3 separate regions of the Homo sapiens genome follow, and all the other regions are linked to region 1. Evidence: fine-mapped expression QTL. A gene starts in region 1. Each other region holds a variant in brackets. All regions are shown on one strand. Distances are between the middles of the regions. Region 1 holds the start of LURAP1L (leucine rich adaptor protein 1 like). Region 2 overlaps TYRP1 (tyrosinase related protein 1). Region 3 has its middle 17 kb from the start of TYRP1.

The links. PIP is the estimated chance that this variant, and not a neighbour inherited with it, causes the effect.
Region 2: its variant is fine-mapped to the expression of LURAP1L in skeletal muscle (FUSION, PIP 0.95).
Region 3: its variant is fine-mapped to the expression of LURAP1L in spinal cord (GTEx, PIP above 0.99).

The regions. Positions count from the first base shown.
Region 1 is chr9:12,771,590-12,779,782 of GRCh38, reverse strand. It overlaps LURAP1L (leucine rich adaptor protein 1 like), which reads right to left and starts at 4,763. Exons shown (of 2, transcript NM_203403.2): 1 at 3,756-4,763. The coding sequence starts at 4,067. The region is part of intron 2 of LURAP1L-AS1 (LURAP1L antisense RNA 1); the gene reads left to right.
Region 2 is chr9:12,704,677-12,712,869 of GRCh38, reverse strand. It overlaps TYRP1 (tyrosinase related protein 1), which reads right to left. Exons shown (of 8, transcript NM_000550.3): 6 at 8,165-8,193; 7 at 4,727-4,873; 8 at 2,585-3,893. The coding sequence ends at 3,688. The region is part of intron 3 of LURAP1L-AS1 (LURAP1L antisense RNA 1); the gene reads left to right. Among named protein-coding and RNA genes, the nearest start is that of TYRP1, 15 kb to the right of the region's middle. The variant T/C (reference allele first, on the strand shown) is at 5,009.
Region 3 is chr9:12,672,208-12,680,400 of GRCh38, reverse strand. No RefSeq gene overlaps it. Among named protein-coding and RNA genes, the nearest start is that of TYRP1, 17 kb to the left of the region's middle. RefSeq lists cis regulatory regions at 5,117, 5,137 and enhancers at 5,045-5,189, 5,065-5,209. The variant T/A (reference allele first, on the strand shown) is at 4,095.

The sequences.
Region 1 (8,193 bases):
AATAGAAATATTCATTTGTTCCTAGGTGTCCACATGAGCATGGAGGTATTCTAAAGTGTAAGAAGTGACAGCATAGGCATGGTTAAAATCTCAGATTCTGACCTCATCCTGGCTCCTCCACTTACTACCTTCAGCATTAGCTCAATAAACCTCAATGCTTTGTCTATAAGATTATGGTGACAATTACATTTAGTTAAAAGATTATAAAGTTTCGGCCGTACACGGTGGCTCACGCCTGTAATCCCAGCACTTTGAGAGGCCGTGGCGGATCACGAGGTCAGGAGATAGAGACCATCCTAGCTAACACGGTGAAACCCTGTCTCTACTAAAAATACAAAAAATTAGCCGGGCGTGGTTGCAGGTGCCTGTAGTCCCAGCTACTTGGGAGGCTGAGGCAGGAGAATGGCCTGAACCTGGGAGGCGGAGCTTGCAGTGAGCCGAGATCGCTCCACTGCATTCCAGCCTGGGCGATAGGGCGAGACTCCGTCTCAAAAAAAAAAAAAAAAAAAAAAAAAAGATTATAAGATTTCAACGGGATAATACATATAAAATGTTTAACTAGCACCGTGTCTTACACATAGTAAAGTCTCACCAAAGTAACCAAATGTAGTAGTACACCCTTATCTATGGCTTTGCTTTTAGTTACCTACAGTCAACTGCAGTCTGAAAATATTATAGTATTTTGAGAGAGAGAGAATGAGAGAGAAAGAGAGAGAGAGACATTCACATAGCAATACACTGTTTTATTTTATTGTTAGTTATTATTGTTAATCTCTTACTGTGACTGATTTATAAATTAAACTTTACAATAGGTACGTACGCATAGGACTAAACAGTCTATATAGGCTTTGGTACTATCCACAGTTTCAAGCATCCATTGGAGGTCTTGGAACATATCTCCCATGGATAAGGTGGGCTACTGTATTGGTTTAAGTTCCTCAGATTTCCTGGACTACCTGACATTAGGCTCTACAATTCTTTCATACATGCTACTTCAATCAGCAGCATGCTTAGCACATAGCATGTGTTTAATAAAAGTTAAATTTAAAATAAAAATCAAGATTTCCAGTTGAACTGAAGCTAGGGAAACCTACACATATTTTGTGCGTTAGTTTGTTTGGAAACATCGTCTCTACAGAGAGTATCTGATGACATGGGAGATGACATGATAGAGTCAGTCTGGTGGAGAAGATATCTAGGCCTTCATCAGTCCCAAATCCACATTATCCATGTAGGGCTGCTTTTGTAAGATCAACGGAACCCATGTCATTGATGTAATGCTCATTACTGCCAGCATCCTTACTGTTTTTGAATATCTATGTAATAGTTGTTTTTCTTATATTATTTCACTGAATTCTTAAAATGCCTTAATGGAGATGCTCTTATTCCTATGTTAACAAGAAAGCTGAGTCTCAAAGTGGTTCTATAACTTGTTCAGTGCCACACACTAGTGAGTGAAAAAGCCATGACTAGAATGAGGGCCACAGAGAGCGGGACAAGCCTTTTTGCCGGGGAAGATAAGCTAAATGTCTCCCTAGACAGGCAGCCCTACATCCTATTGGGTCTTATTGATATCCTGACTTGCTCTAGACTTGTCTGAAACCCTGGTTTATCTGGCTTCAAAGCTTACGAAGCTTCCACCAGACCAGAGGACCATCATTTGAGTAGTGATGAAATATTCTCCAAAAAACAACAACAAATGCGACAAATTATCAGGGACCTTAGAGACTCTCAACATAAATCCCAGTTTCAGAAATTGTGTCTCAAAAAAGTAAAGTCTTAATAAATATTAGGTTGGTGCAAAAGTAGTTGTGGTTGCCATTAAAAGCAATGGCAAAACAGCAATTACTTTTCCACCAACCTATAAAAAAAAACTAATTGTGATTCATCACTACAATAGAAGGTAAAATGTATACTCACGTTACCATGGAAATAAACATCATCAGTTTAAAAATTCTCACAAAACTTGTGACTTCTCTACAGGACAACATGGTTGTGCATCCTAAGTGGAACGTAATTATTTTTGTCAGAAAATGATCTTCACATACATACCAATCATTCCTTGGGACAGGGTGGGGTTCATCGGTTTTTGGAAATGTTACTGTTTTCAAGTTATATATAAATACTCTAAATTGTGTCTGAGTGTCCAGCAAAATGACAGTATTATCTTTGATGTGCTATCAGTGAGCTACTGAGAAAGAAAATATGTTTCAACAAGATTTATTTATTAGATTAAGTGAATATATTAACATTCCATGGGTAAAATTACAGAAGACATGGTTAGGAATAAAATTTCCTCATCTCCTTGATGTCTTCGTCCCTCATATTAAGTCCTTAATTTGCAGAGTTAGCAACATTCTTAATTCCTTGTACAAGAAATTTTCTTGTGGAAAATAGTTTTACCTGTTAGTCTCCACACGTATGTCTGATCTTTGTGATACGGTATCAGGCATCCCCTGACCTGTTGGTTTGTCATCTTTTCCATTTTATCTTTTCATCTATTTTGCAAACTCATCAAGATGACTTCCACTTTCCAGCTTCTCCATTATGTACCTAAGGGTTGTCCTTAAATTTTTGTCCAACCTAAAAAATAACAATCACTAAATGATAGAACTCTATAATAACTAAACGATAGAATGATAGAAATAATTTCCAGCATTCCTGTCGGAGTGATAGAAATCTCCTAGCCTACTTTGAAGCAAATCAAAAGCAACTGTGAAGTTAATTTAATGAAATTATTTTCTCTTTTTGAGGCCCACTGTTGCAACTTTCCTTATCTCCAAGCTAGTAGAAAATGCTGTTGCTTTGTGGTCGTTTTTTTCAAAGGACTTAGGGAGGGATCATTTTCTCTAACCAGCTCATCAAATTCACAGAGGTCTACAGAAGTGAAGTGACGTGCCCAAGAGCTCATGGCAAGTAAATAGTGTCTTAGTCTAAATACTTCCAGAATGAGTATTCCTAGACCTTGTACTTATCTCATTGTCCTATGCTCAGGCAAACGTTTGCAAACAGCAGGGAAAACAACTGCAGATTGAGACTTGAGGGAGAAGGGTGGGAGATGGTCCTTAGCAGATCCCTGGGCCTGGGGATCACCTGCTCCCTGGGATCAAAATAGTGAAACAAGCTATTCATAAGTACATCAAGGACGAGTAGGCCATTGTTTTCAGAACCAGCTGTGGAGAATCTGCTCGACAGTGGCCTTGGAACAGCTGCGGCTGCTGCACCAAGAAGGGAGGGCAGGAGGGCGGAGCGGTACTGGTGGAAGGGTGAGCTAGGAGGAAAGGCTGCAAGGACCCTGCCACGCCACCTCCCGGCAAACCAGGAAGTATTTTTGCAGTAAGTGCATTGGACTGAGCCACCTTTTGAACCTACCCGAAGTGTTAACAGCGCACAGCAGGCCTTAGATGGGTGCAATAACTGCAAACTCTCAACGGGCTGGTGCCTAAGAGGCTACGGGCTGGCAGCTAAATAGAGCCCGGCGCAGTGAGTCGCGTTGTCCGAAAGTACACAGAGTGGAGCCAGCCGACTGTGCTGTCTTTGCAAACCGTGACCGAGCAAAGTCCGCGGTAAACAAGCCTCGCAGCAGCTGCCTCCGGATGAGCGCCCCCTGCTCATTCCTCCACCCAGCATTTCCCACGCGCCCAGCGCTCCGCTCTGCAGCCCCTGCCGTCCTCTCTCCCAGCCCCATTCTCAGATCGCCCCATCTTTTGGCCCAGCCCAGGTCCCAGCCCCCGCGGCTGGCGCACCACACTCACCATCTCTTGCCTGAGGAGGTGAAGCTTGGTTTCTAGCCTCTCCAGGGCGCTAGAGTGGCTACCTCGTGGGGAGCCAGAGGTTGGGGAGGACGAAGAGGAGGACGACAAGGAGGGAGGGAAGCTGCAGTAGCTGCTGCTGCTACTGCAGCCGCCGCCGCCGCCGCCACCACCACCGCTCCCCCCGCAGGGGTCCCTGTCCCTTTCCCTGGGAACCGGCTCCTCCCCACGGAGAGAGCGCACTAGACTCTCGGGTACTTTGCGCCCCAGCTTCAGCTCGATGTCTCTGAGGTCTGGCAGCGGGCTGTCTTCCATGACTTTTCCGGAACGGCGATAATAGTAATAAAACGCAGCAGATGAAAGGCAGCCACGGCTTCGAAGGCTGCTGCGAAATCAGCAGACCTCTCCGGGGGCCAGGGTCTCTATCCTCCGCCGCTCCGGTGTACCGTCCTTTCCATAACCGCCTATGCGGTATCAGCCCTGAAATCCGCACAGGACGCGGGGGGTCGCAGCTGCAGTTCCCAGTCCGCTGCGACTCCTCCGACACTAAGATGATCAAGATCTCCTCATTCTCTCTCTTTTTGGCCACCTCACTGCAAAGTTGAGTTCACTGATATTGCAGACAGAGGGGGAATAAAGAGGGGGAAGTAGTGAAAGAAAAGAGAGGGAAATTAAATCTGTTTTAGCTTTACCAAGGGAAAATTTTCACATTATAAAACCGTCCGTTCACATCCCTGCGCCGCTCACTGACTGCCCATCTGGTACTACGCGACACAAAATAATGATGCAGCCAGAAACGATGTCCTGGGTCGTTTCATTTTCCAGCCATATGCCTCCAAGCTTTCGGGATATCCTGGGTTGTCAGAAATAATCTCTGGTCAGTGAAAGAGGAGTTCGGTCGTGTGCATGGACCCATAAAAAAGAGCTAGTTAGCTTAGCAGGAGTTTAACGGCTTCCTTGATGCAGCAAAAATGTCCTTCTTCCCATTTAGGCTGTTTGATCCAAGTCATTGTGTTCCTCTGAGCCTCGGAAACTTTAAACTCCGCTGGCAGGTGGACCAAACCAGGACCAACCCTTCTACCGTATATCACAGACAAGAAGAGCAACCGGAATTTTCCCAACCCTGTCGCTAGTAGCAGAGTTTCAAAGCCCTGCTTTAGTTAGGAATACCAGTTGATTTTTCAGTTTTCCTGACTAGCTACAACCTTTAAAACAGGTTTTAAAATGAGAGATAGAGGAATGACTTTATATTTGGTGTCTTCGTTTCCCATCTCTCTACCTTCCTCAAAGGAAAAACAAACAGAAAACCTCTCTTTAGAAGACTTTCCTAATAATTTTATTCTAATAAAAAGAGTGAAACAATTTCATCAAAAGTTCAATGGAAATGTACAATCAAAATTAATTATCCTACCAACTGTTACAGTATGCAAACAAAAGTGAAAAATTAAATAGCCAGAATAACTTACATGACTGCTGAGATAGCAGTGAAATTTTAAGAACAAGCAATTGCTGAGATACTTACTTTTATTTTAATTATGGAAGAAAAAATATTGGGAATAACTATTTAAAATGTTGTCTTCTTTGATAATTTATCTATAAATTAATTTATAGATTTTTTCAACTATACAAATTGTACAATTAATTGTATAGTTGAACAATTGTACAATTTATTAATTTGTACAATTGTACAATTCATTAATCTGAAATACTTCTACCAAGTAAGTTATTATGAGCTACATGGATTACAGATCTGAATCAGCATTGAGTTTGTGTCAAAAATGTTTAAGTAGAGGATACTAATTTCAATCCAGTAAACTACAATTTTTGATTTCCATTGAAATATTTCAAAGTATGTGCCCCTCTATTTCTGTGACATATAAGTATTTGTGTTCCTGGTCACTCCGAGGCTCCATTTCCAGAGACATCATTCAGGTTTTACACTTGTAGGAACATAGGTATATACATCTCAGAGTTTGTTTTTATCATATCTGACTCTAGGAAACCTTATACGTAGAGGAAACATACGCATTCTAAATGAAATATTTCATGTCAGGGAAAAAATGCTGAACTTTCTATCAACATGCCAGAAATTTGCATGCTATTTCTCCCTTTTAAAAAGAAATGAAGAAAATAGTTATAAGTTAGATGACCCATTTCAAAGTTAGAACTACCACTTACAGAATCAAGGGAAAACAAGACCAAATCCCAGCTAACTGATAAAACTACATGCTTGGTCCTAAATTTGGAAAAACACAAGCTCGTTGCATAAGAATTGCACTGTGGCATGTAATTATGAAAGGCTTGTGTTTCAGTCAAGAACAGTTTATTATTACAAAACCCTTACAAAGTTCAGCATAAGGCTGGCTAAGTGCAGTTTATAGATGAAATATCTAGCTAGAAATTGGTCAGTAAAAAACAAATGTCAAATTATCGTGTGTCAATATAGAAAAATGGGACACCTCTTCTGCTATGAATCACAGACTGCAAAATCAGTATTTGAGGCTGAGGATAATTTAATATATACGTATATGTATGTATATATGTATATAGTTTTTTAAAGAAGTCTGCAGGAGAAACTCCTCTGAGAGTAAAAGTGTGATGTATATGCAAAGTAACTTTGTTCCAGTGAAATATAAAAAAATGTAAACTTTTGAAGGAAAGCTTAGTATGTCAAGCTTTAAATTTTTTTTCGGTTAAATGCCTATTGACATTTTAGTTTAAAATGAAGACATTTTGAATGATGCTTTAGCTAGTTTTCAGAATATATTAAAATCATTGAATGTTTATGGATCTATAATAGATTGTTGTTAATGCTACCATAACTGCTTTATGTGGTTTAATCTGAGGACATTTCTTACTCAAACTATTTGAAAACTTTTTTTTTTTACTTTGGTTCTTGAGCATGTGTTTTGTTTGTTTGTTTTCAAGATTCTCAAGAAACTGAGTCAGCCTGGGCAATATAGCGAGACCCCACCTCTTCAAAAAATTTAAAAATTAGCCAAGCATGGTGGCATGCACTTGTAGTCTTAGCTAAGGGGTTAGGGGTGAGGGAGTGAGGCCAGAAGATTGCTTGAGTCCAGGGGTTCGGGGTTGCAGTAAGCTATTATCAAGCCACTGCCCTTTAGTCTTTGAGACAGAGTGAGAAACTGCCTCAAAAAACAAAAACAAAAATAAAAACAATAAACATACAAAAATGCCCACAAACAACAAGGACAAAAATGTGTGAGATGTTTTACCAATTGCTCTTAGCCTGAGAAGCTAATTACATCTTGAGTTGGGGAATCAGTTGAGAAGACTTTGCAGTAATGAGTCCAGGATGGGGGTTGGGGGTAGCAGTGAATTCAGCAACAACTGGGAGAGGGAACATAGGGAGAACTAAGAAAGACAGAGGGAAAAATTCTTGAGTCATATCACTCTTAGTAGCACTCCCTCATTGCTCCTACTTTTCTGGTCCATCTCCAACTACCTCTGTTTCTTTGATTAGTAGCATTTGCCATGCCAACAACCACCTAAACTCGCAGTGTTTCTCCAAGTCTAATAATACATTGCAGAGTAAAATTGTAAAAATGGTTATTGTATTGTTTTTATTTGTGATGTAATTTTTTATACTTCATTATATGCTTCCTTTTAAGACCACCATATGTATGAGCTGGATTTGCCTTTTTTTTCTATTCAAAATGCATAAAGAATCTAAGAATGAATGTTAAACTATGCAGGACTTTAAGAGACTGAGTTTCTTCCCTAGCTATGTTGTGTACACGGAGAAGGAAAGGGAGCCTCTTATTTATCATTAAAAAGAAAGAAAAACTAGTGGCTAATTAAATAGGAACATTGTTGGACTCAGATGACAGGTTTTGAAAGAATGCCTCAGTCACAACAGACTGATGTGATGCACGCTTCACACATTCCACACTTAGAACATTTCCTGATTTGAGACACAATACTCACAGCAAGAGTAGACTCAACAACGCTTCATGTAGTGTGGGTAACACCACTCCTTAATCTGTTGCTGGCATTGTGGTTAAAAGAAGAAACACCTTCCACCTTCTTTCTGGCACTGATTGCAAGTTTGCAGCATTCCCAACTCTTGCTGTCACAGAGCTCAAGGGCTAGGACAGGGTCTCTTACCTGAGACTCCACTCCCCACAGTGCAGAATAATGTCAAGCAGCCAACAGCCTCAAATTATGCCTAAGAATTTTAGGAAGTCACTATTTAATAAGTATCAGGTTCTTTCATTGTTTGTTTTTAAATGTGTAGAGCTGCTGCTTCTACAAATATTTTTGTTCAGTTTATATGCATAACAAGGAAGATGTTATAGCAAAGCTAAAGAATGTTGACCCTATCCATATACAGTGGAATTATATATCTGCTAAAGTTACTAAGGTTTTATCATGCTTATTTATAGAGTCATTTAATTTACCTATAATTTTGTAGCTGGCT
Region 2 (8,193 bases), 67 kb after region 1:
CTGGACATGAAGACAAGATATAACTGAGGGCCAAAAAAGTAATAGCTTTTTATTTTTCACGCGTAGGACAGTCAGATATTTTAATGGACTCCACTTAGACTATAAAGCTTAGATCAATTTGCAGCACTCACATGCAATGGGTGCTTATGCAACAAGAAATGGGTGCTTATGCAACAGTTTTCTTGTTTGTTATTGTTATGTTCAGGCTTTCTGTTTCTTCTGAAATCAGTCTTAGTATGTTGTATGTTTCTAGGAATTTATCCATTTCTTATAAGTTATCCAATTGTTGGCATATAATTGTTTATAAAAGTTTCTTCTGATCCTTTTGTTTCTTAGGAACACATTTTAATGCTTCCTCTATCATTTCTGATTTTGAGTCCTCTCCTCTTCTTAGTTTAGCTAAGGGTTTGTCCATTTTTTTATTTTTTTAAAAAAAACCCTTAATTTTCTGAATTTTCTCTTGTTTTATTATTCTGTACTTATTTCTACTCTAATTTTCATTATTTATTTCTTTCTGCTAACTTTGGGCTTAGTTTGTTGTTCTTTTTCTAGTTCTTTGAGGTATAAGCTAGGTTGTTCATTTGAGATCCTTAGATTTCAACGTAGGCATTTATTGCTACAAAATTCCTTTTTAGTACTTTTGCTGGATCTTGTAAGTTTTGATATGTTGTGTTTTTGTTTTCACTTGCCTTGAGATATAATTTAAATTCCTCTATGATTTCCTAATTGACCCAATGGTTATTTAAGAGTGTATTGTTTTTTCGTCATTGTGAATTTCCCACTTTCTTGCACTATTGATTTCTAATTTTACTCAATTGTGATCTTAAAAGATCTTTGAAATGACTTTTATCTTTTTAATGTTGGGGGGACTTGTTTTGAGGTCTGATGTAATTTATCCTGGAGTATGTTCCACCTGTGTTTGAGAAGAACATGTTGCTGAAGTATAAGAATATTCTGCTGCTGTTGAGTGGTATGTAATGTATATGTCCCTAAAGTCCAACTGGTGTACAGTGTTGTTCAAGTACTCTCTTTCTTTATAGATCTCCTACCTGGATGTTTTATACATTATTGAAAGTGGAATATTAGATTCTACTACTAGTATTGTATTGATATCAATTTCTCCTTTCAGATCTATCAACATTTGCTTTGTATATTTAAGTGCTCTGATATTGAATATGTATATATTTACAATTGTTATATCTTGTTAAATTGACCCTTTTATTATTATATAATGAACTTCACCTCTAGAGGAAGTTTTTGACTTTGTCTATTTTGTCTGATAGGATAGCCTCCCCTGCTTTCTTTTTTTTTTCTTTTTACCATTTTCATAATATCCTTTTCCATCTCTTTACTTCCAGCCTATATGTATTTTTAAATCTAAAGTGAGTCTCTTATAGACAGCAAGTCACTGGATCATGTTTTTTGATTCACTCAGCTACTTTAAGCATTCTTATTTGGGATATTAAGCCATTTACATTAAAATAATTACTGATTGCTGAGGACTTACTAACTGCCATTTTGTTAATAGTTTTCTGTTTTGCTCTTGTTTTAATCCTCTCTCTCACAGTCTTCCATTGTTAACTGACATTTTTGTAATGATTTACTTAAAGCTATATTTATATTATACTTATAATTTCAATATTATATAGTATTTATAATATAAGCTGTATTTATTTATTTATAGATGTGTACAACTTTATCTTATAATTATGATTATTTAGAATTAATGCTTTGAAACAAGGCTTTCTCCTCTCTCCCACAATCTATTCCATATTAATGAGTTTCTTTGCTTTTAACCATTCCAAATTATTTCTCATCAACGTTATTTGTGAACAGCACCATCACTACTATATTTATAAATATACAGCTTGATTATGACTCTCCCTGTTTCCTATTTCCCATGGAATTAATTCCAAGTATTAAGAATTGCATATAGGACACTCTGGTTTTATTTCCAATTTATCTTTTTACTCCCCTCCATAAAAACTATACTGTAATCACACTGACCTATTTTATATTTTAAAAAGTTCCATGCTCTTTTAAACTTCTGTGCCCTTGTCCATGCTGTCACTTTTGAATAAAATTCCCTTCTCTGCTTCTATATTTGGTAAATCCATTGGCAGTCCTTGAAGTACAAGTCAAACATGACCTTCTCAATTTTACAATTCTTATTTTCTTCTCTCTAAATCTATAGTGCCTTGAAATACTTGATATCTAGTATGTGCTTAATAAATGTTTCTGAAATGAGTAATTAGTAAGTCTACAAAAATATAAAGTGAAGTATTTAGTTTCATTGATGTTCTATATAAAAAGGCATCTTACATTACACAGTAATTTCTTTGAAAAGCTGTGAGTATACTGTATTTTAACAAATCGCAATGTATTCCAAGAGAATAAATTGAATAATGCTAGTGTAAAACATCCTATTGTTATATGCATGCTCTTTGATATATTTTATTTGTTTATCTTGTGTATATATAGCCTTAATATTTTTGAATATAGGAAAACCCAGTAACCAATCAGGGATACATAACTTAAACTTGTTTCTGTTTGTAGAATTTAGAATCTCAGTTTAGCCATTTTCTATAGTGCATGATTATTACTGTTATTATTTATTTTTACCAATTTTAATTAAAATATTCACTTATGACCACCTTATACAGTTCTTTGGAAGATTGTTTCATAGCACAAGATCAAAAAGAGAAAATATATTTCATGTTAGAAGAGAAGGGAAAAAATAGCATTCATATAGAACCAGATAAAAAAGAAGACCAATGAAATAATATGTTAATATTTTACTTGGAAAATACATAAAAGGCTGATAAATGATAAGATAATGCTATTTAAATTAAGCACAGTGATTGGAATACTATTTATAGAGCAGTATAAAACATGTTCTCCATATGCCTTCTCCATGGACCTCTAAGATGTTAGAAGAGACATTAGTAGGTGAAATGTAAGGATAGGTAGTTCCTTTTTCAGCGAATTGAGAGGCAGGGAAACACAGTGGCAAACACAGGCAATATCCATTGTTGCTTAAGAAAGTGAAGATTTTCCCTCTCCAAAGTTTGACAAAGATGGTGATTTTTGTTGTAGCCTTGAACCTGAGACTAAATAGTATATGTTGACTAAATAATATATTTGATTGGTCTTCAAACTGGAACATTAATTTGAAAAGGTTAATCAAAATTTCATTGGTTTATAACTACACATAATTAATTTTCTTTAATTAATAACTGTGGTTTTCTTTAAATCTGTTGACAAATATCCATGAATGGAAATGTGTTTATGTTTTAACATTTTAGAAATGCCCATTCATGTATTTTAAGTGGACATTTACTATCAAACATTATTTTCCTTTACACGTAAACAAAGCATGGTAGTTCACTTACTTATATCTTCACATACTCAACCTTTAAATCATGCCAAAGATCTTCACACTATCCTTAAATATCATGGAGTTTAGTGTCATTCACCATTTTAAATAGAACTGAAAATTAAAACCCATTGAAAAGATTCTGAAAGGGTCTTCCCAGCTTTGAAAAGTATGCCTAGAACTTTAATGCTAACATATGCTTGTATTAGAAAGAAGGTAATAAAGTGAAAGAAAATACAGTTAATAACTCAATCTATTATATTCAACCAGGTGGTTTTGTGATACTAATGCATAAGAGAGTAGGGCATTTGTTAGACCACAGACTGATTAGGATTCTGGAGTTTTTCATATTCTTCAGCATAGCATTGATACTGATCAGTGAGGAGAGGCTGGTTAGCTTCATCCATACTGCGTCTGGCACGAATCAGATAAGAAGCAGTCCCAAAAATGAGTGCAACCAGTAACAAAGCGCCAACTACTGCTATGGCAATTATCTCAGGTACACTAAACTCCCGACCTATTTGGAAAGGAAGATAAAAATAAAAAGACAAATATTAAAATAGTTATCACCAAAAAGTGGACAGATGAAATTTAGAAATGTCTATTTTAACAGAAATCCTCATATTTAATTTACATTGGCCACATGGCCTTGAAGCCACTTCCTGATTTCTTTTAATGAGTGGACCCTATTGGGATAGTCATTGTTATTTCCATTTCATTTTGTGAAAGTGAGAGAATGATGACTCAATGAGTCTGAGTCACTTACCCAGGTCACTTGGTTGGTAAGCAATAAAGTTGGCTTTGGAGCCCGGATATTTTAGAATATAAGTCTTGTACTTTTCCACTATGCCCTACTGCCTTTGTTGGGGAAAAGATTTAAACAAAAAACTTTTGAACTTCAAAATCTCAGAAAAATACCTAAGAGTATCTCACTCCCTTTTCCTTTAAGATAGATAAATGCAGGCAATATGGTATAGTAGAAAAATTGGGGCATATTCCATGGGCCTAAGCTCAAACTCATTCTCTTCCCTCATTAGAAATGTGAATCTGTAACAGTTAACCTATTTAAGCCTCAGCTTCCTTATTTGTGAAATGAAGATTTTCATACTCACCCCAAAGCATTGTGAGGATTAAATGAGATAGGGTGCTGTACAATAAGATCAATATCAGCTTAGTGTGGACTCTCAACAAATATCAAATTCCTTCCCTTATCCTCAAATAAAAGTACAAATGAAAGTTTCCAAGTCCAAATGGAAAACATAGCTTCAGAATACCGTGATTACTCTACTTGAAAGATAACACATTTGCTTTTGGAAATTATCACAGTAAAAATACACTTTCAACACTCACTTGGCCATTGAATTTCATAAGTGTATCCCAGGTTGTCTGGAGCAGTAACAAACATTTCTGTGTTGGTGACTGGGGGCCAGAATGGCACCATGTTGTATTGTCTATTATGTCCAATAGGGGCATTTTCCAATGGAAATGTGGATATATCTAAATTATTCCAAAGACAACGTATTAATAAACATAATAAAATTAATATTCCTATCATTATTGAGTTCTAAAGGCATCCAATATTCAAGGAGAACCTGAAAAAATTTTATTCTTATTTTACACTGAATAAAGATA[T/C]GAAGTTTCACTACAGCAGGATGAGAAATTACATAAAACAGAAAATGCTTTGAATACAGTACCAATATACCACTTAATAAAAAAGAGAGTTTAAAAGCAGGGGAGTTTTAGTATTTCATCACCTATGGTGATCTTGAATAATTTTTAAAAATTACATAAAGCAATTTGAATAAAATTCATTAAATGTATTTTTCAAAGCCAAAGAAAACATAAACCTGTAATTTGCTGTGGCATACAGCTCTGCCTCCTGTTATCCCTTTGACCTTACTATCTCTCACCACTCTCTCCCCAGACCCCACTCTACTCCAGCCACAGTTGGCTCCCTGTTCCTTTGTCTTAGGACATTCTTCTTCCATATATCTACACAGTACTGCCTATCCTATTTCCTGATTTTATTTGTCTATAGAGACTTCCACCATCTAACATGCTGTATATGTATTTACATATGGTTATTGTCAATTTTATCAACAGGAAGAAAAGTTTCAGGAAGAAAATTTGTTGGTGAATTTTGTATAGCATCGTATTTCTGGTACCTTGAATACTGACCAGGAAATAGTAGATTTGAAAATAATATATATGAAAAGACTTAAGTGTACGTGTGATTACTTCATTTCTCTCACAGCTCAAAAAGTAAAGTAGTGATCACTCTTGGAAACGTATAAACTGCTTCTTCTGAAAATACACTGAACTTCTGGGCTGCTATATTTAAAACTTAATTCATATAATTCTCAGTTGAAATAAAAGAGAAGGAATTGAATTGAATGTGTATATAGATCAGAAATGTTAGTAAATAGAAATTAACATGGTAGTAACTAGAGTTTGGATGCTCTCAATTGTACTATTTCATGTCTAATGAAAGGAACCTGTAATGGACATTAATATTTGAATGACTCCACTTTTCTTTATCTGTAAAGTGTAATTTTTGTTCCTTTCCAAGCCTAATAATTCTATTATTCTGCAATTTGTAAAGAGCTTTCTATATTTGTAAAAACCTTTCAATCATTTTGAAAAAGAATTCCATCCCTCCACTCCTAGACTTATTTTAAACAAGACTCTTGCTTTACAGACAGTTTTATAAATTTTTTTAATCTTTCTAATTTTTCTTTCTCTTCTTCACAGTTGTTTTATGACACTGATTTCTAAAACGTATTTGCAGGTACAAGGAATATTTAAGAAGGAGGCTAATTGTTTCAGCTTAGCTTTCATGCAGTTTGCAAGTGTTTACATTGACCTATCCTATAATTTTATGGCCACATTTTATCAGAAATGTGCTGCAGGGTAGTTTCCTATTTTTTATTTACGGTATTTCTCTTCCCACTACAATTCAAGTTACTGAGAAACCTTATGCTACACATATTGCAAACAAAGAAAATGTCAGAAAAAAATGTTCAAAAGGTATTTTTCTGGTTCATCAATGACCTTTAAGTTAAAATCTGGAGAACCTTTAACAACTTGCTATCAATGTGAAATAATTATATTTTCAGCCAAGATACACAAGGTGAAGGAATATCTTTCCTTTCTTTCATAGGTGAAAGAAAACTCCACTTAAGAGACTTGCCAGGTTACTGAATAGTCTCCATTTCCTCTAAAAAGTTTACTAACACCCACGGCATTGTGAATAACTGAATAAATACAACTTGAACATTGCCATGTAGTTCCCAGAAGTGCATGTTTAACAAAAGCTGGTTTTGTTAATTCCTAAACCTATTAATTTGAGTTTACTCATTACTGTAATAAAAGTAATCTAGTTAAACAAACATAAAGTGGTCATCATGACTGTAAAACAAAGAGAAGGATGTTGTTTTTATAGTATGTAAATTGAACATTTTGGAAAGATTTGTTAAAGGTGTATGGCTAAAATATTTGCCCTCATATTGTATTTCAAAAGTCACTCATTTATTGTTTCACTTTTAAAAAAGCTGACAGTGTAAATTATAGATTTATGGTTGTCATTATGTATATAAATACACATGAAAATGAGATGAAACTGCAATAACTGAATTCATAACTGATTGAAAACTAACTCTGTCTCTGTCAGCCAGGCTAGAGTGCAGTGGTGTGATCTTGGCTAACTGCAACCTCTACCTCCTAGGGTCAAGTGATTCTCCTGCCTCAGCCTCCCCAGTAGGTGGGATTACAGGTGCCCATGACCATGCCTGGCTAATTTTTGTATTTTTAGTAGAGACGGGGTTTCACCATGTTGACCAGGCTGGTCTCAAACTCTTGGGCTCAAGTGATCCCCACATCTCGGCTTCCCAAAGTGCTGCGATTACAGGCTTATGTGTAAGTTGTTTCTTAAATAATTTTTGATGGAACAAACTATTTTCATCAATTTCATCAATTAATGGTCCTAATTAGGTTGGATTAGAGGACGTTATTGCACACATACACACATAGAAATGAAAGCATGCCTAATGGATACATAAATCAATAGGTAGTTAAGCTACAATATCAGGTTTATGTGCGTTATGAGCTAAAGGCACAAAAGCCAAAATTTAGAATGCTTTCAACCTATGAAAATTTGCGATGTTTTAACCAGTGGAAGCACTTTTATTGTTTGAAAAATAATGCTAGCCTCTCAGCTGCATAGGAAGGCAGAGAAAGAGGCCTTTTAAATAGTATTTTAAAGAATGCATTGAAATGAACTTAAAAGAGATTTCCTATAGTGTGATATAAAAGCCAACATTAACTTTTCAAGTGGAACACAATTTCTATTTGTGAGGGGCCATTAAGTAATAAAAATAAGAACTGTGGATTATGGGTATAAAATTTTTAGTCTTTTGGGATATCAAAGAAGAGCTCTATAAGGTTTTCCTCATTTATATTTAAAAGTAATGAGAATTTATGTTGGAAGATGAGGGTAAGAACAATTTGTGAAACATAGTAGCCATTTTTTCGTAGCAAAAATTAGGAGAGATGATTTGGTTAGTCCCAGCAAATGGTTAAAAATATCATCCTATAATAACTATTTGGAGAGACTTCTTGCCTGCATTTTCAAAGTAGAATTGAATGTCTGGAAGTGACTTGATATTACAGCTATGCTATCCTTATTTTGAAAGTGTTTTTATGCGCTGAGTGCTCAGCTTGAACTGATAACTATGCCATCTAAACAATCCGCCCAGCTGAGCATGCAAAAGGCATATGAAAATGTCTTACCAGCATTGTATCTCCTCAGCCATTCATCA
Region 3 (8,193 bases), 99 kb after region 1:
GCTTCTATTGTCATTTCAGCTATCATTTAATAACTCTATCTGTGGGGATGGCACTGGCTAATGTAATAGCACACAAAGGTGAATGAGATGTGTCCCTACTCTCAAGGAGCTCAAATCATTAAAAAGTGGCACATAATATTAATTGCTAAAAGAGAGGTAAACAACCAAAGCAATGAGAATATAGAGCATGGAATGATTGATTTTGATTAGTGATATAGGATCATTATTTTCTGTAACAAATTATTGATCATCTATGTGCCAGGCACCGTGAATACAATAAAAAGGGAATACAAATATGTACAATGCAAAAGTGGCCCTGGTTGCAAGAAGCTTGCATTCTAGTTGAAGAATCAGGATAAACACACATGCGCGTGCACACGCGCAGACACACACATACATGCACACACACACATACACACACACACACACAGAGAGAGAGAGAGAAACAAGTAAAAATATAAATCCCAAACCCTGACATTTAAATAAACAGAAATATACATTAAAAACATTACAAGTTGTGATATGCGATTTGAAGGAAACACAGGGATGGAAGGAAACACAGAGGCTAAGGAGAGGGATTGAAACTTTATTTTTTAACTAGGTCAGGAAGGTTTTTGCGTAGAGGTGGAATTTACTACAAAATCTGTTTATGATAGAGTGTGCCTTTACATTGAATTTAAAATTATATCCTTCATCTATCATTTGTAACACAGATAATTAATTTCTTTTTATTTTTTTTTCATTCCCACTATAGAAAGAAGCAATACTTGATTTTCCTTGACCCAACTTCCTTAGTTCACAATGTCAAGGTCAAAATAATATGTAGAGATAAATATCTAAAGTTAACATTTTATGTTGGAAATCACAGAATCACAATTTGTAGCATACACACACACGAAATGGTCTTCAGTACGTCCAAAGGAAAAAGAGGAGTTTGGAAGTTTTATCAGAAAGGAATATGTTATATATTGTTTTAAAAGAAAGTTCATGGGCACCAATAAGGTTTTGGAAGCAGGCATTATGTAAAACTAGTCCTAGAGTTGCAGCAAGTTATATCCGTGTCTACTGCGTAAAACTGGTCTTAAGGTTACAGTAGGCAGTTTCTGCAGCTGCGTTTGTGGAGAATTAAATTCTCTCTAATCTTTAGTGGGAAACCATGGTTGGCCCATTTACAGAAGGTCCCTTGAAGATTCCAAAATGAGAAACATTCAAAGAGCCACAGATATTGGTATGTCATATAATCAGACACTGAGGGTGGAAATCACAAAATTGCAGTTAATTTCCTCTGAAGCTTGTGGGCATCAGGATTTTACATTCATTGTCTTAGCTATTGACAGTTTTATTCCTTCTGCTCCTCACTTGTAAAAGCAGTCTGTATTCTTTTGGCTTTCTCCATTAATTTGTCATAATATAAATCTTTATATACATATTTTACATTTTCTTCTTAACTCAATAACATTTCTTATAAAAAGGAATTTGATATTAAGAAAACTGGAGAAGCAATGTTTGCTATTTCTCAGTAACTTGCTACCAGAATGTTCAGATAATTTTTAGAAGATGATGCTTTTAGACAGCAATTATTTGTTAAATGTCTGACATATTATTGAAATAATAGTTTTGTTTGTTCTTTCTTTGTTTCTTTCTTCTCTCTAATTTGAGTCAACCAGGCTTTGGGAATCTTCACCCTAACAGTAGGAATAACCTAAAAAAGACTGTGTTTCTGAAAGCCGAAGCCAACTGAAGAGATTCTGTTTGATTTACTGGCAAGAAAGAAAAGTCAGTGTATCCTTATGAAGCTAGATACAATAGACCTTTAGAGTATCAGGCTCAAAGGGTTTTTAAAATCCAAGTTTCTGCCTTTTAAGTCAATCCTTATCAAAAATGTCAACAAATCATAATTCATTTAATTTAAGATTTATGGTCCATCATTCTTTTATAAGATTTGAATCAGCTTTCAAGAATATAGATAAACACTAAATGTTGATATTTAAATAATAAATTGACAAGACTAGACAGTAAAGAAATCAGAAGATTAAGATGTGGGAAACTAAGAATGCATATGCTCATATATGAAAATCATAGGCTTCTAAAGAGTTCACAGTATTATAGAATGATTGATCATTTTAAAGTTAAGAAACAGATCATGCTGTCCCCTGTTAAAGATACTCTAATGGCTTCCCTTTACACATGGAGTAAAATCCTAATGAGTGGGGCCCACACTTGATTCCTGCCCATCTCTCTGATCTCCCTGTTTATTCACCAAGCTCCAATCACTTTTGTAGCCTCCTTCTCCTATTTTCCAACAGCCAAGGTTCTTGCCTTCCTGAGGACATTTGTACTTGCTGTTCCCTTTGCTTTAAAGCTCTGATATTGAGCTTTGGCAGTTGTCTGAATTAGTCAGGACTCAACTCTAATACGTACTTTTTATTTTATTTTATTTTATTTTATTTTATTTTATTTATTTTATTTTATTTTATTTTATTTTATTTTATTTTATTTTATTTTATTTTATTTGAGATGGAGTCTCTTTCTGTCTCCCAGGCTGGAGTGCAATGGCTCAATCTGGGCTCACTGCAACCTCCACCTCCCGGGTACAAGGAATTCTCCTGTTTCAGCCTCCCGAGTAGCTAGCTGGGACTACAGGTGCCCGCCACCACGCCTGGCTAATTTTTGTAATTTTAGTAGAGATGAGGTTTCATCATATTGGTCAGGCTGGAGTCAACCTCCTGACTTCAGGTGATCCACCCGCCTCGGCCTCCCAAAGTGCTGCGATTACAGACGTGAGCCATCGCGCCCAACTAATGCCTACTTTAAATGGTATATTCTTTCAATCATGTTGACTTATTTAATTATCTTTGTAAATCTCTCTCTACTGAAAATATTTTGCCCATGTGTTTCATTACTTATTTTATATCTTTCTTTCCACCCTCCATGCCCACAAGAATGGATGTTCCACAGAGAAAGTTCCTTACCTATCATTTTCACTATTGCATTGCCAGTACCTAGAATAGTCTGTGAAATATAATAGGAAAATATAATAAATAAATATGATAAATATTCACTGAATCGCTGACTGAGTGAATTCTGTTTTCAAACAATAGAAGTAAAAAGGGAAATATAATGTTATAGACTTTTTATTGTCCATTAAAACAAAAAGTTCCCCTGATGGGAGATCAAAACTTTCTTGTCTACAATAATAAAGAAATTTCTCTGAAGGGGCTTCATATTGGGACAAAAACACTGTATTTCACAATGTCCTCAACAATATCTCCAAGGCACTCTTTAAAAAATTAGTTACTTATATAGTTCTCCAGCTAATATTTGAGCCCATCAGGTCCAGGCAATGAAGCAGGGATTTTTTTTTCTCATTTTATGGGCAGCTTTTAATGTTCTGCCATACAAGCACATTTAGCCTTTCAGTGACTTCTGCTCCATCACGTCATGTATAGCATCACAAATGATAAGAACAGCCCCAACTGTGACAACACTGTGGCTGTCACCTTTCCCAATCCAGTTACTCTAATTTTTCTTCTCCATGGTAATTTTGTAATTAATACATATACAAACATATGTATATGTGTACACACACACACACACACACACACACACACACACACACTGCTTTTAAATCATTCCATTTCCAGATATATTCCTATTCTGTTGATATTCATCCAACATTCTCCCACTGGTTAATGTTGTATTGAAATTGAAGTACCCAGAAGTGTATCCCATTCTTCAAATGTGTTCTTCCCAGCAAAGAATAATATGGGAATTCCAGCATCATTCTTCTATAGCATATTTTTCAACTAACCTAAAGCCTAAGCTTGTGTTGTATTTTTTGACAGCTTCCTCATCCATTGAGATTATGGTAAATTTAATCCTTAATTCTTTACTCATGCAGTTGATTAGAGAGATCTCTTGTATCAACTTGTTTTACCTTATATTTCTGATTTTGGTGTTTGATTATTCCCTTTTATATTTTAGTTGCTAAATGTTGTCAATTTTTATAGCATGATGAGGTGCCTTATTATTCTAATCTATTAATTTCCTGCTATTTATATCCAGCTCTGTGATACCTGTGAATTTGATTTGCA[T/A]GCCACTATCTCTTTATTCGAAAATTTGACATAATTTTAATAGCTAAAGTTAGAGCATTTTACAGAATTTCTTATCTATATGGACATTGTTTGCTTAATGCCAACTCATTAAATAATCTATCAACCCACTGAAAAACCACTTAACTAATTCAGCACTCATTATTTTAGCTATTACGAGACAAAATCATGAGTATCAAAATGACTTATTCAAAATTGGTCACACAATGCTTAACATTTTTACTATAAAGATGTAGAGATTAAAATAAGGAATTGTTCAGAAACATTAAAATGTTTCTGAAAATTGTGCACATGAGAAATTGTATGACAGATGAATACAATTTAACTAAAAAATAATGATTCAGATTATGACTGTAGTTTCTTTTTTAAAAAAAGATAGAATACACTGCCCTTAATGATATTAGTACTTGATTAGAAACATTGCCACTGATGCCAAGGAAGAATAAAAATTAATATAACAACATTTATTGAGCACTCATCATGGGCTGGGTACTGTGAAAGTGCTTATAAATGTTATTTAATTTCCTCACAACTCTATGAAGGTAGTCTTTTTTACTATTGTTATTTTCCATATGAATAAACTCATAGAGATTTTAAATGAATTAGTTATGTAAAATATATATCTATATAAATGCAGGCAAATACATAAACTTGAAGTCTTATTCAGGTCCTTAATGAGATCTGCAGTGCCAATATCTTCTAACTACAAATTGTAGTATGTTGCACAGGGGTCAGATCTCAGAGAACATCTAATCCAGCTGAACCTCTTTACGTATAAAGAAACTGAGGTTCAAAAGACATAAAAGGAATTAATCATGTTGACCAAGTTAGAGAAGTTCCAATGTAAGAAAATTAAAACTATTCTACTTTTTAAGAATTGGAGAAAATGCCAAAGAAATATATACGAACGAAAATAACTGAATGAATTCCACAAATGCAGTTCTCATGGATGCTTGATAACTTAGCATTGTTCATTGAGCCAAGTGACATCAGTCATGTACGTACGCATATGTACGAGCAACCCATGACTTTCGATACAAAGAAGGCAGTATTTTCCTTTCCTCAGAAGTTTGAAAGTCACCAGTTTAAACTTTGAAAATGTATTCTCATAAATTTAAGAGCACCATGTCTCCTCTTTTCTAATTAAGTTTTTTATGCCATAGCCAGGCACGCAATCAGAGCCTATCCCATGAATAGTTACTTAAGACTTAAAGTCACTAAGTTTTTTATCCTCCACATGTGACTTGATCTCATGGACATAGAGAATAGAATGATAAATACCAGAGACTGGGAAGGGTGGGTGGGAGAGACTAGGGATGATCATTAGTTATGGATACAAACATACAGTTAATTAAAAGAAATACGTTTTAATGTTTGACAGCAGACTAGGGTACTATACTTAGCAGCAATATTATGTGTATTTTAAAGTAACTGCAACAGATGACTTGAAATGATGCCAACATTTAAAAATGATAAACACTCAAGGTGATCGATACCCTAGATACCCTGGCTTGATCATTGTATATTCTATGCATGTACCAAACACTCATGTACACCTCATAAATGTGCAAAAGATTACATATCAATAAAACAGGAAAAAAGTGAAAAAAAGGCATCAAGAAGAAAGTAGCACCTTGAAATAAGTGCAAACAGTTGGAGAAACAGATTATTAATTTTAAAGACAATCTGCCAACTGCTTAAATGACATCTCACCTTCACATTGTTCATTAATTATATATTCACAGCCTTAACTTCTGGAGATTAATTAATGCTGAGGAACAACTATAAGATATACAACCCATATTAGTTGTTTAAAACGAATATGGTAAAACCATTATTTTTAAAACTGAAAAATAAATTCACTGTATATAACTCTAGACTGGAAGTGTTACAATGTTGAGGACAGTGACAAAAAAACATAAAATAATAAAAACAAATATTATGTTGGCAGGGAAAGGCAGGTGTAAAATCTACACTGTGTTAATTATGTCTTATTTGATGTCTGTTTGGGTATACATTACAGATAAACCTTCTATTCAATGTAAATAAAAAATTTTACGTAAATATATGACTGCAGTAAGCGTAGTTTTCTGAGACTGAGCTCTGTGCCATACAAAATAATGTTTTGCGTCTCAATTTGATGACAAATCTCAGTACTCTGATAGCCTTTAAGATTCTTAGGAATGTGTAAGAAAAATTAGGTTAATCCTACTCCCAATTCTTTTCTATCTACCATGGAACTAGGCCACATAGAATTTCACTATTATAACAAATAGTTTCAGACATTTTCCATCTATAAATGGCAAGATGCACTTAAGTTCACACAGTAATTAGGATCAATGAAGACCATTAGCATTTTAAATTGCAGTAGATCACAGGAAAATGCTAAATTCTTCCAAATGTATTTCATAAAACTCTGAAAACCCTAATCCCAAAAGCACATACAGATAGCACTTAAAAACAAAACTACAGAACCATCTCATGTAGGAATATAGGTACAAAAACATCCAAAATAAAATAGCAGCAAATAAATTCCAGCAGCATATTGAACTACATAAATTTTAATAAATAATTCATTTAGTATATGCAAATGGGAATTTAATTTTAGGAAAATGATTAATATATTCTATCAATAAGTAAAAGTAAGAGGTATTGTGGAGTTCTTAGTAAATGCTTAAAAAGACATTTAGGAAAATCTAATACCTGTTTTTGGTAAAAATATACTCGAGCTTAGAACAGAATTTTTCTTTAACTTCAGTAAAAACTGCATATTTAAGTCAACAGCTACCACTGTAGTTAAAAGTGAAACATTTCAGTAATTTTTATTAAAATTAAGATGAGGCCAGCATGGATAACCGCTACTATGAACATTGTTTTAGAAGTTCTACCTAATGCAATGAGACAGGAAATAGAAAAAATATATATATATCTACAGTAACATTAGAGATAAGTTTTTGATGCTGCTCCTGCGTTGATGGTAACAATATAGAAGAAAATCAAGTTAGATATTTATTTTGTTTATTATATTGATAAGAAAAGTAGATTAAAATAGTTCATGTAAAATGTAAATATTAAAAAAGAGGTGAATATTTGACATAAATAGGCAAACACTTTTCCAATACAAAGCCTTTTTATTAAAGGGAAATTATTTATAAAAATTACAGACAAAAGCACACAAATTGCACTTACAAATCCATGAGAGATACTATCAATTGACTAATAGGAAAAATTTTTGCAAAGACAGGTTGAATAAATAGAGTTTACCAATGAATTTAAGAAAATCTATGCAATCTCATAATCAATAAAGATAATTTTAGATGTTACTTTTTGACTGCAACATTGGTAAAGCCTTTAAAAAAATAAAGCCTTCAGTGTGTAATGCTGTCCACCTTCATACAGAGCAGACAGGCATGTGAATATTTATAAAATTCTTCTTAAAAGTAATTTTGCAGTATATATCAAAAACATTAAACTGCACATAAAATGACTTATTTCAAGGACACTATATTCAGTTGTCAAGTACATATAACATAATCAAGTATATGTCACATAATTATATAAGACTTCCATTGCATTTTTTCATGCTAGTGATAAATAATAAACATAGTTTCAAAAATAGTGAATTAATTATGGTAAAACCATAAGAGCCACTGCAAGTTCCCTGAGAGCAAGTGACTTCGTCTGCCCTAATCTCAGCTCTATCAGCTGAATCTAGAATGGACAGAGTATGCCTTGAATAACTATTTGTTAAATGAATTGGGAGAATATGAAAATATTAATAATTATGCTTGTGAAGATTGATGTAAGAATAGTTAAAACATCAAGCTACATGAAAACATGATACAGATTTTATATGGAATGAGATCTCAGGTTTTAAAAATCTGTTATTTACATTTAAGTAATAAGGTGTACAGAAAAATAAAAGTATTAAGTATTGAAGTGATAGTTTTACAGTTTCCTAAACCATGTTTCTATTTTATACATTTTCCTGCAATACACATGCATGTTTAGTGCCAGGAAAGTATAAATATAATCGTTCAAAATTTTAGATTTATATTGAGCTAAATATAATAAATACAAC